Linked DNA regions of Homo sapiens. The protein of the gene in region 1 purifies or fractionates together with the protein of each later gene. This does not show direct contact. Each region holds a gene or a part of one and is shown on either strand. Other genes may lie near its edges.

Region 1 (5,351 bases):
CACATCCTCTCCAGCACCTGTTGTTTCCTGACTTTTTAATGATCGCCATTCTAACTGTTGTGAGATGGTATCTCACTGTGGTTTTGATTTGTATTTCTCTGATGGCCAGTGATGATGAGCATTTTTTCATGTGTTTTTTGGCGGCATAAATATCTTCTTTTGAGAAGTGTCTATTCATATCCTTTGCCCACTTTTTGATGGGGTTGTTTGTTTTTTTCTTGTAAATTTGTTTGAGTTCATTGTAGATTCTGGATATTAGCCCTTTGTCAGATGAGTAGGTTGCAAAAATTTTCTCCCATTCTGTAGGTTGCCTGTTCATTCTGATGGTGGTTTCTTTTGCTGTGCAGAAGCTCTTTAGTTTAATTAGATCCCATTTGTCAATTTTGGCTTTTGTTGTCATTGCTTTTGGTGTTTTAGACATGAAGTCCTTGCCCATGCCTATGTCCTGAATGGTATTGCCTAGGTTTTCTTCCAGGGTTTTTATGGTTTTAGGTCTAACATGTAAGTCTTTAATCCATCTTGAATTAATTTTTGTATAAGGTGTAAGGAAGGGATCCAGTTTCAGCTTTCTACATATGGCTAGCCAGTTTTCCCAGCAAAATTTATTAAATAGGGAATCCTTTCCCCATTGCTTGTTTTTGTCAGTTTGTCAAAGATCAGATGGTTGTAGATATGTGGCATTATTTCTGAGGGCTCTGTTCTGTTCCATTGGTCTGTATCTCTGTTTTGGTACCAGTACCATGCTGTTTTGGTTACTGTAGCCTTGTAGTATAGTTTGAAGTCACAGGCTAGCCACATTTTAAGTGTTCTGTAGCCTTATGTGGTTAGTTACTGCCATGTTAAACAGTGCAGACCTAAGCCATAGTTGATGGTTTTTAAACTTGAGCTTGCATCAGGATCACCTGGAAGGCTTGTTATAATACAGATCGCTGGGCTCCACTTCCAGAGTTTCTGATTCATAGGTCTGAATGGAGCTTGAAAATTTGCATTTCTAACAAGTTCCTTAATGATGCTAATGATGCTGATCTGGGAACCACACTTTGAGAACCATGGCCACAGTTCTTTCAAAATCCAACTTTGGAACCATTTTACCACTGTATTAACATGAGTGATCAAGAACTGTCCCTAGGTATTGTTGCTATTGTACCACAATACTGTCGTATTATTGCAGTTTATAAAATATTGAAAATCTCCATTTAACTCATGGTTAATATTGAGTAATTATTCATGTGGATGAGTAGTTCTTAGATCTTCATGTCTATTACTCTCTGAGTGCTTCTTTCCAGGAGGCTGGACAGGGAAGAGACATTTATTGGCTTGTTTGTTCTTAGTGAGTATTTACAGAGCTATATTAATACCATATGTATATGCATGCTCTGATCCTTAGGTAGAAAATAGTTCTTTTCAAGTTGACAAACTGTCAATCAATAAATTGATAATCTGCCCAGTATAGATTCAAGGCTCTAAGAGCAATTAGTTTGATTTTTAATGTATTTCAAAAACATTGAACTTTAAAATATTAAGTGAATAATAGTCCACTGTTTTTGAGCTCAGTGAGAAGTTTTTTAAAAAATTACACTTCATGGTTTTTTAAGCCATGACATGAATTTATCTCTGAATAAGTTCAGAGATTGTATTCAGGTGAGCAAGTCCTGGCCACCAAATTGTTGATGATTCTGATCATTTGTGAAAGATGTAGTTTCCTCCTATCCCTACATGCTTAAATATTTCATTTCCCTTGTTTTATTTCTGAAGAAAAACAATGAGGAGTTAATACCTGATCTTTAAACTTTGTTTTTGTCACAAGAGTACAAAAACAGCATCTGAGCCTCCATTGGCCCCTCCTGTGTCTGAAGAAGAAGATGAAGAGGAAGAAGAAGAAGAAGATGAAAATGAGCCACCACCAGTTATCGCACCAAGACCAGAGCATACAAAATCAGTAAGTCACAAAGGACTATTTCCAAATGATTCAAAAGATGCCCTTTGGAATAGTCATAGAGTTAGAATATAGTTAATCAGCTAGTACCTATTAAGCATCTTTTATGTTCCAAGAGCTAAAGTATAAAATATGACCAAGGTTTTGAGGATACTGTTTGAGGATACAAGGTTAGCACATTAAACAATTAGAGAATAATACCAAACAATACATAAATAACTGCTAAGTAATAAAAATGTTGGAGAAGTTAAGGTAAGGAAGGAAATCCATGTAAACCAGGTAGGAAGAGTTGCATAAACAGAGATCCTCAGACCAGAATTAGCAAGGCATGTATAGGGACATCCAAAGACTAGCTCCCATGATCTTTCAACAGTGTTGTACTTTCAGCTACTCAAAGTCCTTTTTTTTTTTAAGAAAATACCACTTGTCTTTAAAAATTCATTGATATTACAATACATTGACTCCACACTCTTTCCTTGGCCTGCTGTTTTAATTGCAGAGCTTTTTGGTTTTTTTAGATCTATACTCGTTCTGTGGTTGAATCCATTGCTTCACCAGCAGTACCAAATAAAGAGGTCACACCACCCTCTGCTGAAAATGCCAATTCCAGTACTTTGTACAGGAACACAGATCGGCAAAGAAAAAAATCCAAGATGACAGATGAGGAGATCTTAGAGAAGCTAAGTGAGTACTTCTTGCCATGATTACTTTCTACACGGGAGTGTTTCTCATAAGCCATTTAAAATGGGAATTGATCCTTTGGAAGTTTTAATCTGCTTATATGAACTCCAGACTTCCCAAAATCATGAGATGAAAAATTTGAGACTCACTGCATATGCCAGAACACTTTCTCCCTTCCACTCCTAATTTGACAGGAACTAAATATTTTTACTTGAAGGAATCAATTGAGGTGAAAATTGATAAGACAAATTAAGTAGCAAGTTTTAAGATTACATCTTCAAAAGAGAATAGTCTGATAAAATATGTTATGATCATAACCCAAGGGCTCTCAACTAATCAGTGATGATAGATATGTCAACCTCAAAGCCCAACACAGTCAATCAAAACTTGGAACAACAAATAATATAGCTTTTTCCCTTAATTCAGAAGCATTTATATGTGGCAGGAGAGACAGAACTAGCAAATGCTAGTAGCTTCCTTCCACAATGTCATTAGTGTGTACATGCTCGTGTGTACACACTTGTTGCCCCAGTTTTATAAAACACTTACCTTCTAGTTACTTTTCTGGGTCAAGAAGATAAAAAAAAATGGATTATCTGCTGAAAAGTCAAAGGTTTGTAAAGCATATTCATTAAACTCATACTATAAAAGCATCTAACAAATTGCTAGATATCAGCAATAAGTGCCCCCCCCAACCCCAGTTTGACTAACTCCTACTTATCCTTCAATACTCAGCTCAAAAGTTGCCTCCTCAGAAGATGTTGCTTGTCCCTCCCAGTCCATGTTAAGGGCATCTCTTCCTTACCACTTTTACTGGAGCAAATATCAAACCATATTAGTCTGACTTCTTTACTAGACTGTGAGATTCTCAAGAGCAGGGACTGTGCCCTTTTTTCCCTATATGTCCAACCCCTAGTTCATACCCATTACATAAAGGCATACAGCAAATGCTTGTTGAGTGAGTGAATGAAAAAAATAAGTAAACAAATACATCTTTACTGAGTTCCTACTTGTCTGTTCTGTGCAAGAAACCTTGGAGGACACAATAGAATGAAACTTTCCTGTCATCAAGAAATTCAATCTTTTTTGGAAAATACGATTTAATAGTATGATACAATTAGAGCATAAGATAATCTCGTTTCATGCATATTTTTATTTAAAAGACCTCAGAAAAGGAAGACAGTAATTCCCACTATAGGCCACAGGGAGGCTCTGCAGAGGTGGTGGTAGGATGATTTTGCCCTCCAAAGGACATTTAGCAATGTCTGGAGAATATTTTTATTGTCCTGATTCAGAGACTGCTAGTAGCATATAATGGGTAGAGGCTAAGGATGCTTCTAAAACCCCAACAGTGCACAGGACGGCTGCCCTCCATCCACTTTACAGTAAAGTATTATTCAGTCCAAAATGTCAACAGTACTGAGATTGAGGCATTTGAGTTAGATGCATTTGGAAAGGCAAAGGTCGGAGTTGCAGCTGTCAGTTAAAACTCAGAACTACAATTGCTAGATTTTTGCTGACTTTACTATTCATGATTAAATATGCCACTAGCACTGATACTAACCATTTGCTGTAATAACAGCAGTAATAATTCTCATTTATTGGGCACCTTCTGGGTGGGCCACTTTACATACATTATCATAGTTTCACAGTAATTCCTTGCAGCTGATTCTAATATCCTCATTTTACAGACCAGTGAATGAAAGTAAGCTTTAAAAGGCTTAACTGACCAAGTCACCAAACCAATGTGTGGCACAACCAAAGTTTGAACTGAGACCAGTTTACCTTCAAAGCTTACACTTTTTCCATTACCTACCTACTTTGCTTCTGCATATCCGAACTGTCTATTTTTGTAAAAAGGAAGAACTAAATGAAAGAATTGCCTCGATAATTTAAGTTCAATTATTCAGACAATTGGCACGTTTTTCTTTATTTTGCATATGTAGACATGACCTATGTGATTATATCAGATTTTAAAAATCTAACAGCCTTGCCTTAATAAAATGACTCTTATTTGGTATCTGTTTCAAATCTCAATAGATGTATTACAACAAAAATGCTTGTATAGTTTTGTTAGCTGACAGAGAAACAAGCATTATTTTCTTGGACCAAAATCTTGTTTTGCTTGTAAACTCTAGTGGTGCTAGAGCTGTGTCCTTATTATTTTGTTTATTCTGCTCTACACTGAGCAACATGGTGAAGAAGGGGAAGCTAACTTTGATTACATTTGAATTAAGAATTCAGTGGGGTTTTTTTTTTCTCTACTGGACTTCATGCTTGGGCATAGAGAGAGTCATTTTCCCTCTAGCCAGCAGGCCACTTGTGACTGCCAACCTTACATTGGATTTGTAGATTTTGGCAGGGTGAACCTGCTGAGAAGTGGAGCAGTGCTTCTCATGAAGCAGATTCAGTGAACTATACTCCAAAGTCCACAAAGGCAGACTTTCCTGCTCCTGCTCCACCATTACCCTCTCTGTGCCTTCTCTCTGCCATTACGCCTTTGTCTAAGGAAAACTTCAGACAAGTCACTTAACTCCTCTGAGCCTCAATTTTTAACCTGTGAAATGGAGATAAGAATCATAACTACATTTTTGTGAGAGATAACGTCTGGCTCTGTTACCCAGGCTGGAGTACACTGGCACAATCATGGCTCACTGCAACCTTGACCTCGTGGGCTCAAATGATCCACCTCAGCCTCCCAAGTAGCTACAATTTTAGGTGTGCGCCACCATGC
Region 2 (5,351 bases), on another chromosome or scaffold:
TCTTTTAAGAAAGAACATAACAAAACATTTATTTCTTCTACCTCTTTATGCAAAGTGCTTCATGTACATTATGTATCAGTTGGCCCTCACATGAGCCTTATGAGATAATCAGAGCAAATCTTCTCTGAATTTTCCAGGGTCCCACTTAGTAAGCTGATGATTAGATTTAACACAAGACTCCTAGTGCTCTTCTAAACACACTACGTCACTGAGCTCTTTCAAGAAATAGAGTAGCAATGAGAATAAAACCCAAGAAGTCTTGACAAAACTCTTGGATTATGATTCTGATAATGGTACCAAGATGTTTTCACATAAAAATGTGGTAAATATGTGGACTGTGGTGCTACAGGTTAGCCATGCTTTCAAGTTTTGTACAAAGTACTCTATATTCTTACATGCTACAATTGATTTCATTCCTCTAACCTCAAACTAAAACTTCACTTTTCTGCTGTTAAATATGCCTTTTGATCACATAGATACCTCAGTGCGCATCAGCTGGCACTCCTGTCAGAAGACGGTGATGCACAGTAATTGGAAGCAAAGTCTTTGGGGTCAGATCTGCTCCAGTCCCGGCTCTTGTCGATTTTACTAGTGTGACATTTGGCAAATAGCTATCTCTGCGACTTAGTTTCTCCATATATAAAATGGGAATATAATGCCTCACAGTGCTTTCCTAAGGATTAAATCATAAAAATGTGTATGAAGCTCTGCATAACTAGTACCCTGCACAGCAATGCTGCAAAGTGGTAGATGTTATTCTTACTGATGAGTTGCTATGACATTAAGACTTGTTTTATACATTTTATGTTCTTTGCAAAACTGGAGCCCCAGAAAGAATACAAAGTGAGCTTCTGTTCCCACTTCTCCCAGAATAGCCTAGGATGGGCAACCATGTAAAATTCAATAAAAATCCAACCTTCTAACTAACTCGTGGTGTTGGAGAGTATTAAGCATTTGAAAAGTTCAGGTAGAATTTTCATCCTTTTTGAGCTCTTTCCTAGCTGCTTTGCTGTGATATATCTGTCACTCCAGATGAGGGAGTAGTGGTGGAAAAGGAATGCATTCTCAGATTCATTGTTGGTAGTTCAAAAGAAAATAAGTAAACCTTATTCATTCTCTGAAGTACTTTCCACCACTACTACAACTGATCCAAGAAAACAATTTCCCATTGGATGGTATTATTCAGAGTGTTATTAACAATCAGTCCTGAATTTTTCAGAATAGTACTAAAGTTGTCTTTTTTTTTTAATGGGTTCCTTCCTTCAAGGTTATAATAAAGCTTTTTTATAACCTTCAAAGAATACAAAGTGGAATTTGTAATTTATAGGATATACATTCCTAGTTTACAGGTAACTATTTAAAGCTGCCAAATTTAGATAAAGATGCCTCCCCTTTAAATTGCCCCCTTTAAATTCTATGGCATGTCTCACTTAAGAGTTACAAATATTCAGAATATTCATGGCAAACATGGCAAACGGCAGTGAGGGAATCTAAGTGGTCAAATTCCTAGAAATACTTGTCCTCAGCACCACTAGGTGGCAGTAGTTGGTTGAGGCTGTGAATGATCGGTAACATAATCACTAGTAGTGAAGCCATCACAGATGCTAGCAATGACTTAGGAGTCTCCCACAGCTGGTCAGACAGGCATTCTGTGAAGCAGATGGCCAGTGGACAGTGTGAGCCTATCAGACTTGAATTAATTGAGGAAATAAATGAGCGGAATGAAGTATACAGACCTTTGCTTGGTAAAAGAATAATTTGGAGAGGGGACTAGCATCTTACCACCTGGAGTAAAAAATGGTATCATAAAAGATCTATTCAAGCAATATTCCAAAAGCCTTCTGAATTCTTTCTAGTGCTCCTTTTGTATATCATTGATAGAGAATTCATCTCATGTTTTCTTAGCTAAAGAAGCACACAAACCCCCTGTGTTTATTGAGAAGCTCCAAAACACAGGAGTTGCTGATGGGTACCCAGTGCGGCTGGAATGTCGTGTATTGGGAGTGCCACCACCTCAGATATTTTGGAAGAAAGAAAATGAATCACTCACTCACAGCACTGACCGAGTGAGGTAAGACTGCACAATGAGAACCTGATCCTTAACTGTTCAGTCCTAATGATGTATCAAAAGATACATTTTATATAGCATGGAAATCTATGTGTAAAAGCCACATAGATGTTTTGATTTTTGATGAAATCAATCAAAGACAAAAACCATGCGTTACCCAATGTAGGATTAAGCTTTTAGAAGGAAGCTATGGGTGTTTGATCTAATGGTGATTTCTTAAAAGTGTTTATCATTCTATCTAAAAGAAAAGATGAATTCATTTGCTTTAGTGATAAAAGACTATTCAGTGGTTTTTGTAAAGGCAGATCCTCAACTAGGAATTAAGCACACAGATGTATTCAACTCTTGACGTCTGTTCTTTCTCCCATTAACTTTAATGGAGCTAGTAATCTCTACAGAATAAGTATGACCCTATTATCAGCTACTTGCACAATTCTGTTTCTAATGATCTAATTAAAAATGATGCTTCATGTCCAAAGCCACTTTTAAAAAATTTAGAACCCTAATGACTTTATCCTTTTCTCCAGCATGCACCAGGACAACCACGGCTACATCTGCCTGCTCATTCAGGGAGCCACAAAAGAAGATGCTGGGTGGTATACTGTGTCAGCCAAGAATGAAGCAGGGATTGTGTCCTGTACTGCCAGGCTGGACGTTTACAGTGAGTGCCACTTCATCTCATTTCATTGCGTTTACTCATTAAATTATGAAAAATTAGACATCTGGACAGCAAATCACATTACTCTTTATAAACAACTATTGTGTTTTATTTGTCAAAAAAATTCATATTGCTCTCTCTCTCTTTCTATTTGTAGTTTCTCGACATTAATAGTGAACCACACCAGGAGAACAAATACCCAAGTATCATTCAGGAACTTTGAATTATTAGCAAAATATGCATGTTGATTTCTCTTACATTGGCTAGTTAGTTGTGGCTTCCTTACTCAAGCATCCTTAGGAGTTAACAGTAGGCAAAGGCATAACCATGTTTTTCACATGTTCTTGTTACTGTGTTCTGCAAATGACTGCCTTTTAACATTTCTTCCTATATTCTATCGCAGTGTCCTAATGCACTCTAAACGTGTGTTCCATTGATCCTGGAATGCGTACTTTTGTGGCTTAGTGCTTTTCTCATTAATATATCTTAAGCAGCCAGCAGTAGACTTGTGTTTGTATATTTGTGTACATGCATCCCAAATTTAAAGAAAATTATTCCTATTGAATTTACAGTCTAGTACAATCAGCATTATGTTATCCATTGACATAAAAAAAACACTAGAAAAAAATTAAGAATTTATTTAAGAATTTATTTCAGATTTTGCCTCTTCTTGAAATAACTATGTGAGGGTCATCAAGAAATGTGTGGCCTCAACCTTCCCTACTGTACGATTCCTTTCAGTTGATTAGTGTTAAAGCATCCACATCCAGCAGAATTCCTAAGTGCTATAATTATTTTAGAGAAAATATTTTTTAAAAGGAGAGGGGGGATGAGAATTAGGAAGCTTATCAGCTATTCCAAAGGATTCCCTGTGCTGCAGTGTTTACTTAAAAAAAAAAAAGATAAACTACACTTGACCTTTGTAATCTAGCTGCTTTATTCCCACTATCCTGTATAGACAGTAAATCTGCAACATGTGAGTAAAATGCAAAAGTGTTCCTAAATTTTCCATGTTTCTACCATGGATGTGTTCAGGTGCCTTGCATCTATCTAGACATTCTGTATTTATTTGAAATATCTAAAGGCTTTCCAAGTATATCTTGATTAAAAATCTTAATTTACTCTTTTTCTTTGTAGCCCAGTGGCATCAGCAGTCACAGAGCACCAAGCCAAAAAAAGTACGGCCCTCAGCCAGTCGCTATGCAGCACTTTCGGACCAGGGACTAGACATCAAAGCAGCGTTCCAACCTGAGGCCAACCCATCTCACCTGACACTGAATACTGCCTTGGTAGAAAGTGAGGACCTGTAATCCAGCATTCTTGTTAAAGCTGAAACACTGAAACAGCCATTGCCTTGACCAACATATTCCTTTGTCACATTATGTAAAAGGCAGAAACATACCTTTGACTATAAGAAATTAAAAAAAAAACACCAAAATAATATTTTTCTTACTTGATATACCAAACTTAGTTTAAGTAGATAATGCTAATACAAATATACACATTGCACAGAAAATACACATTTACTGTCCAATTTAAAACTTTGGAATTGCTGTGATTAAAGTGATCAAAATGCCAAAATACTAAAGGAAATCAATTGTTCACAGGTAACTACAATTTGTATTATCTACAAGTGCCTTTAAACACAAGATATAGGTGCTGTGTAGCCTGATAGTGTGAAATGTTTAATGAGGGAGTTGTACCACAAACAGTACTACAATGATTCTGAAGCACAGTGTATTCAGACAGATACAGTGAACCAAGTGCAATATGTAAGGATGAAAGAAGAAGAGATGACAAAGAAATCCAAGTAAATGCCTTGTCTTTGCAAATGTTTTTATATTAAATCATAAGGAAGGAACTACTTGCCTTAAATGTTAATATCAAAAGAGTTTTCTAACAAGGTTAATACCTTAGTTCTTAACATTTTTTTTCTTTATGTGTAGTGTTTTCATGCTACCTTGGTAGGAAACTTATTTACAAACCATATTAAAAGGCTAATTTAAATATAAATAATATAAAGTGCTCTGAATAAAGCAGAAATATATTACAGTTCATTCCACAGAAAGCATCCAAACCACCCAAATGACCAAGGCATATATAGTATTTGGAGGAATCAGGGGTTTGGAAGGAGTAGGGAGGAGAATGAAGGAAAATGCAACCAGCATGATTATAGTGTGTTCATTTAGATAAAAGTAGAAGGCACAGGAGAGGTAGCAAAGGCCAGGCTTTTCTTTGGTTTTCTTCAAACATAGGTGAAAAAAACACTGCCATTCACAAGTCAAGGAACCCAGGGCCAGCTGGAAGTGTGGAGCACACATGCTGTGGAGCACACATGCTGTGGAGATTGCAGTGTGTCTGAGGTTTGTGTAGTAGTGGAAGATTTTAGGTATGTAGAGCAAGTTGAAAATGGATTGAGACTGCATGGTGGCATAAATGAGAAATTGCCTGTAGCATCTAGTCTACTTGAAGGAAGTGGAGACATAAGGAGAGACAAAAACAGGTTTGTGCCATAAAGTATTTTTTCAAAGACACCAAGATGTGGTAAATGAAAATTATTAGTTCACTTCCCTGCTGCCATGAAACTTTGCCTTAAGAAGGTGCTGGATTCCAAGGTTTGTAAAG
Region 3 (5,351 bases), on another chromosome or scaffold:
CCGGTAAATTTTCATTTATTATAGTCCTTAAACATGGATGTTTGAGTGCATTTCTGAAAATTAACAGAATCCCACATAAAATAATATGAAAGGAGAATAATATATCCAAGAAAGAGAAAAAATAATGCCTCAATGTTAATCTAAAGATGTTTTTGGAAAGAGGAAGAGAATTGAGAAAATCATCACAGAGGAATGAGTTTTTGAGAACTAAATTTTTTTTATTTTTTTTATTTTTTTTATTTTTTTTTTATTTTTTGAGACAGAGTCACACTCTGTCTCCAAGGCTGGAGTGCAGTGGCACAATCTCGGCTCACTGCAACCTTCACCTCCCAGGTTCAAGCGATTCTCCTGCTTCAGCCTCCCAAATAGCTAGGATTACAGGCACGCACCACCATGCCCAGCTAATTTTTGTATTTTTAGTAGAGACGGGTTTTGTCATGTTGGCCAGGCTGGTCTCAAACTCCTGACCTGAGGTGATTCACCCGCCTTGGCCTCCCAAATTGCTGGGATTACAGGCATGAGCCATCACGCCCAGCCGAGAACTACATTTTTTCTAATGAGCACATGGTCACAGGCAGAGTATTGCATTCACTGGGGATATTCTGATGTTACTGTGGGGGCATCAGAGATGCCTGTTGCAGTTTGACTGGAATGGTACTCAGGCCAGAGATCACCTGAGGAAGGCCAGGTGGCAGCATAGACAAGTCTTCTCAGGGTGACTTTTTAGGGTCACTACTTCCCAGGTCTTATTTTCTGCTGAATAGATTAGGAGATTCAATTATTAGTTTATATAGAGATGATGAAGCTCTAGGGAACCAACTCAAACTAACCAAATTGACAAGTGATTATATATATATTTTAAAAACCTAGGGCAGGTGCAGTGGCTCAGGCCTGTAATTTCAGCACTTTGGAAGGCTGAGGCGGGGGGATCACTTGAAGCCAGGAGTTTGAGACCAGCCTGGGCCATATGGTGAGACCCCCATCTCTACGAAAAATTAAAAAATGAGCAGGGTGTGGTGGTGCGTGCCTATGGTCCCCGCCACTCAGGTGGCTGAAGCAGGAGGATTGCTTAAGCCCAGGTGGTCGAGGCTGCAGTGAGCTATGATTGCGCCACTCCATCCCAGCCTGGGCGACAGAATGAGAGCTTGTCTCAAAAAACAAACAAACAAAAAAAAAACAAAACTCAGAAATCAAATTTACAGTTAAAGCTATCAAGTAAAACAGCTATATTTACTCATATATGCATTCTCTTCCTATGGATAAGTCTATATGGACGTACATTATAATTAAAAGGTTGCTTGATGAGAATGGAATTAGTGTAAGATGAATTAAGTAGATGCTCTTCATAGCTGGTAATTTTGTACTATGATATTTTGATTCATCATTGTTCCCTGTATGAAATAGCCAGAAGCACAGACCTGAAATTTGAGCTCAGGGGTAGTTTACGCCCTAACTGTTCTTTTCTCCAGACACATACACAATTTTAACGATACGAATTTATCTCTCTACTAGGGAACTATTGTCTTTGTTCTCAGTGTTAGATTATAGCTGTAGGCTCCTAAGTGGTCTCCTGCCCTTTGCCCCACTGCAGTCTGTTCTCAAGCAGCCAGGGTCACCTTTAAAAACTAAAGTCAGACCCTGTCATTCTTCTACTCAAAACCCCAAAATGACTCCCATCTCATTTGGAGTAAAAGCCATAGTTTCATGTTGATCTTTCTGGGGTGACCATATATCCTGGTTTACCTGAAAGAGTCCTGGGTTTATGCTTGTTTTTCTCACATCCTATTAACTTTACTTTTTACCCCAGATCTTCAATTTTATTTAAAGTTTTCTTATCAGTATTTGCATTAAGTAAGCCACTATGGCTTAACAGACCTCCTTCCAGCTTCTTCCATGGTCTCATCTAGCAGCGTATGAAACACATATTCAGTGAACAGTGCTCTTTTTTTTTTTTTTGAGATGGAGTCTCTTTCTGTCGTGCAGGCTGGAGTGCAGTGGTGCAATCTTGGCTCACTGCCACCTCTGCCTCCCAGGTTCAAGTGATTCTCCTGCCTCAGCCTCCTGAGTATCTGGGACTACAGGCATGCACCACCATGCGCAGCTAATTTTTGTATTTTTAGTAGAGACAGGATTTCACCATGTTGACTAGGCTGGTCTTGTACTCCTGACCTCAGGTGATTTGCCTGCCTCAGCTTCCCAAAGTGCTGGGATTACAAGCACGAGCCACTGTCCCCAGCCAAATTCTGACTTAATTATGGTTAAATGCAAAAGATGGCTAATGATAACTTGTCTTTTTTCTTGATTCTGTTCAGATGAAACCTAGCTAGCAGCAACCTTTCAAGAATTATATGCAGGGTGCTGCCTGTTAAAGCTAAGAGCTCAAGCACAAGTACCTCTTCTGATCTTAGGTGGTAGCAGAAGAATTTCTGAGGCTTTTCCCCCTGCTGGCCACTTTGTGAACCACCACTCATGCCCTCATGTGGTCGTGTGGTGGGTGGCCTGTGAGATGCGTGGAACCTCCTCAGAGTCAGTAGAAAATGGGAGAAATTGTGGCTTAATGTCATACAAATTATGTTTAGGAAATAGAGGCTAAGTAATTTTGCCATAGAGTATAGTGTAACCTAATTGTTTTATTAAAGCAGTTTTGTTATTATTTGTATATGTGAAGCTCTATTTGTTTTATTATATGGTAATGCCTTTTGAATTTTACAATAAACCCTTTCAGCAGTTAGCTCAAAACAAAACCCACATGTTTAATTGTCTCAAGAAAGCTGATAATGAATATGCAACGTGCAGAAAATATTTTTCAATATTTACCATGTACCATGCAGGCAAGTAGAAAGATCACTATCCCTTTGAAAACCAGAAGGTACAAATATGGTGAAGCAGCTTTGGCATCTATTTCCAAAGTTAATAATTTAAGAAGAATATGCCTTAAAATGACTTCAACACGGCAGCTGCAGGAGGCCTATGTACATGTCATTGTGAAGCACACCTTCCCATTAGTATCAAATAACTCATAAATTAATTTTGCTCATTTTCAATTCCAAGTTTTCTTGTACTTGTAAGTAAACTGGTAATAATTAATGAGTGATTTTCCTTTGCAAACCTTCAAATAATGTTTTTTATAATAATTTCCTTAGAGGTCTCAATTCAAAAATGTATTAATTCTGAAATGTTTCAATTTTGTTTTTTATCTAATTCAAACAATCAAAATAAAATATGTGAAAATTTATTTCCTAGTCAAAAAGTGAAACATCTGACATTGTTAATGCCACTGTAAATTTAGTTGAAAAGCTCAACATTGAAGGTAAACTGTTGTTTTTGTTGTAAGAATATGAATACAAATGTTAATAGAGCACAGCATTGTGTTAAAAATGTTCTTACCAAGTTAACAAGCTATGAAGCAGAAATGTACTTGGAATTGGTTGTAATGTGCACAAAATTTGTGACTGCATTCAAACAAGCTGCGGTATTCTGTCAGTCAAAACAGAAACTAAAATTGTCAAAATGTATAAATTATAAATATATATATACACACACACACACACACACACAGATTTTATAAGTAACTGATCTACAAAACTTTTCTGACAGAAGCTGATATTGAACACTACCATGCAAGGAAACATTTCAGAATGACTATATGTATATTCCTGTCTGTGTTGCATGTCATCAATTGGATTTTGGGAATGCCTGAGCCTTTGAAAAACCACTTTGTAAAGCAACCCAAATTTAGATTGCATTATGTTCAAGACCAGTTGGAAATTTTTAATCGATTACTGAATGAATGTAGCATGAAAATTCAGCTTTTGAAGCTTTTAGCAAGTTACAATTATGTAAAATAAGGCTTGCAAAGGAAGAAGCTCAAATTTCTCCCTACAAAAGCGAAGAAGGAGTTGAACAAATCAAAAGATGAAAGCAGATATGGTTTAATTATCTATTTTGACAATTGTGCTTCAGAAAAATCTTGACTTTGATGTATTTTGACTTCTAATTTTATTTGGATAAATTTTTATTCTCTACCAAAATGGAGAAAAATTGTGAAAGTCTATGATTTTGCAGTATCTAGATTTGGTGAAATGTTGAAACAATCACAGATATAGACAACTTGAAAGTTTTATCTTGTAAGAAATTATTGAGCAAAAGTGCTTTGAATGAAGGTAGAAAGACAGCACCTATGACGATATTGGCCTGAAATATTTACATATTTTAATCTAAAAAATGAGAAGATTCTTCATTTAGCAGAACTTACAGGTTCATCAGTATCTAGAGAGGAAATGTGTTCTCAGTTAAAAACATATAGTGAAGCATCAATTAAAGTTGTCCATAATTTCAAATATATTAACCATAAAATGAAGTTTTGAAAAAGATTGCAGTTTTATAAAAAAATAACTGTTTAAATAAAAAACGAAAAAAAACACATGTTCCTGAAAAATGTCCACATCCCAATGCTAGAGACAATAATATCTAAATAACCAATTAAGGTATGTGAATACATATAAAGAATAATTGTCTGTACCATTAAAAATGTTCAGATAATCAATTTTTTGTTGTTGTTGAGACAGAGTGTCACTCTGTTGCCCAGGCTGGAGTTCAGTGGCATGATCTTGGCTCGCTGCAACCTCCGCCTCCTGGGTTCAAGCAATTCTCCTGTCTCAGCCTCCCGAGTAGCTGGGACTACAGGCACCCACCACCATACCTGGCAAATTTTTTTGTATTTTTAGTAGAGACAGGGTTTCACCATGTCTGGTCACATGACACCAGGCTGGTCTCAAATTCTCCTGACCTCAAATGATGCACGTGCCTCAGCCTCCCAAAGTGCTGGGATGATAGGCGTTAGCCACTGTGCCTGGCCAATATTTTTTTAAAGTTGCTTGAATGTTCATAACTTTGTATCACTATCACTTTAAGATATTTCAGGAAATTTTTATTTTGAAAATAAATTTTGGATAGAATTATCTTATAGGTCCACCAATATAATAAGACCAAATTCAGGTCAATAAACACATTTTTTTTTTTTTTGAGACCGAGTCTCGCTCTGTCACCCAGGCTGGAGTGCAGTGGCATGATCTCAGCTCACTGCAATCTCTGCCTCCCGGGTTCAAGCAATTCTCCAAGCCTCAGCCTCCTGAGTAGCTGGGATTACAGGCACGCAACACCACTCCCAGCTAAATTTTTATAGTTTTAGTAGAGATGGGGTTTCACCATGTTAGCCGTGATGATCTCGATCTCCTGACCTCGTGATCCGCCTGCCTCAGCCACCCAAAGTACTGGGATTACGGGCGTGAGCCACCACGCCCGTCCAATAAACACATATTTTAAAAATGATACAAGCTCGTGACCCGTCT

Evidence for each region. The genes of interacting proteins can lie anywhere in the genome.
Region 2: the proteins of PAK3 (region 1) and PALLD purify together in Homo sapiens (affinity purification with mass spectrometry, with the first as the bait; one large-scale study listed by BioGRID). This does not show direct contact.
Region 3: the proteins of PAK3 (region 1) and LPXN purify together in Homo sapiens (co-immunoprecipitation; one large-scale study listed by IntAct). This does not show direct contact.

The regions. Positions count from the first base shown.
Region 1 is NC_000023.11:111,161,108-111,166,458, forward strand, and holds part of PAK3 (serine/threonine-protein kinase PAK 3), read left to right. Parts: intron 1-1,807; coding exon 1,808-1,939; intron 1,940-2,454; coding exon 2,455-2,620; intron 2,621-5,351. UniProt on the Homo sapiens protein: Serine/threonine protein kinase that plays a role in a variety of different signaling pathways including cytoskeleton regulation, cell migration, or cell cycle regulation.
Region 2 is NC_000004.12:168,922,350-168,927,700, forward strand, and holds part of PALLD (palladin), read left to right. Parts: intron 1-1,905; coding exon 1,906-2,071; intron 2,072-2,595; coding exon 2,596-2,729; intron 2,730-2,883; coding exon 2,884-2,897; 3' UTR 2,898-2,929; exon of another isoform or gene 2,930-2,935; intron 2,936-3,863; coding exon of another isoform or gene 3,864-4,036; 3' UTR 4,037-5,351. UniProt on the Homo sapiens protein: Cytoskeletal protein required for organization of normal actin cytoskeleton. Roles in establishing cell morphology, motility, cell adhesion and cell-extracellular matrix interactions in a variety of cell types.
Region 3 is NC_000011.10:58,565,208-58,570,558, reverse strand, and holds part of LPXN (leupaxin), read left to right. Parts: coding exon 1-3; intron 4-5,351. UniProt on the Homo sapiens protein: Transcriptional coactivator for androgen receptor (AR) and serum response factor (SRF). Contributes to the regulation of cell adhesion, spreading and cell migration and acts as a negative regulator in integrin-mediated cell adhesion events.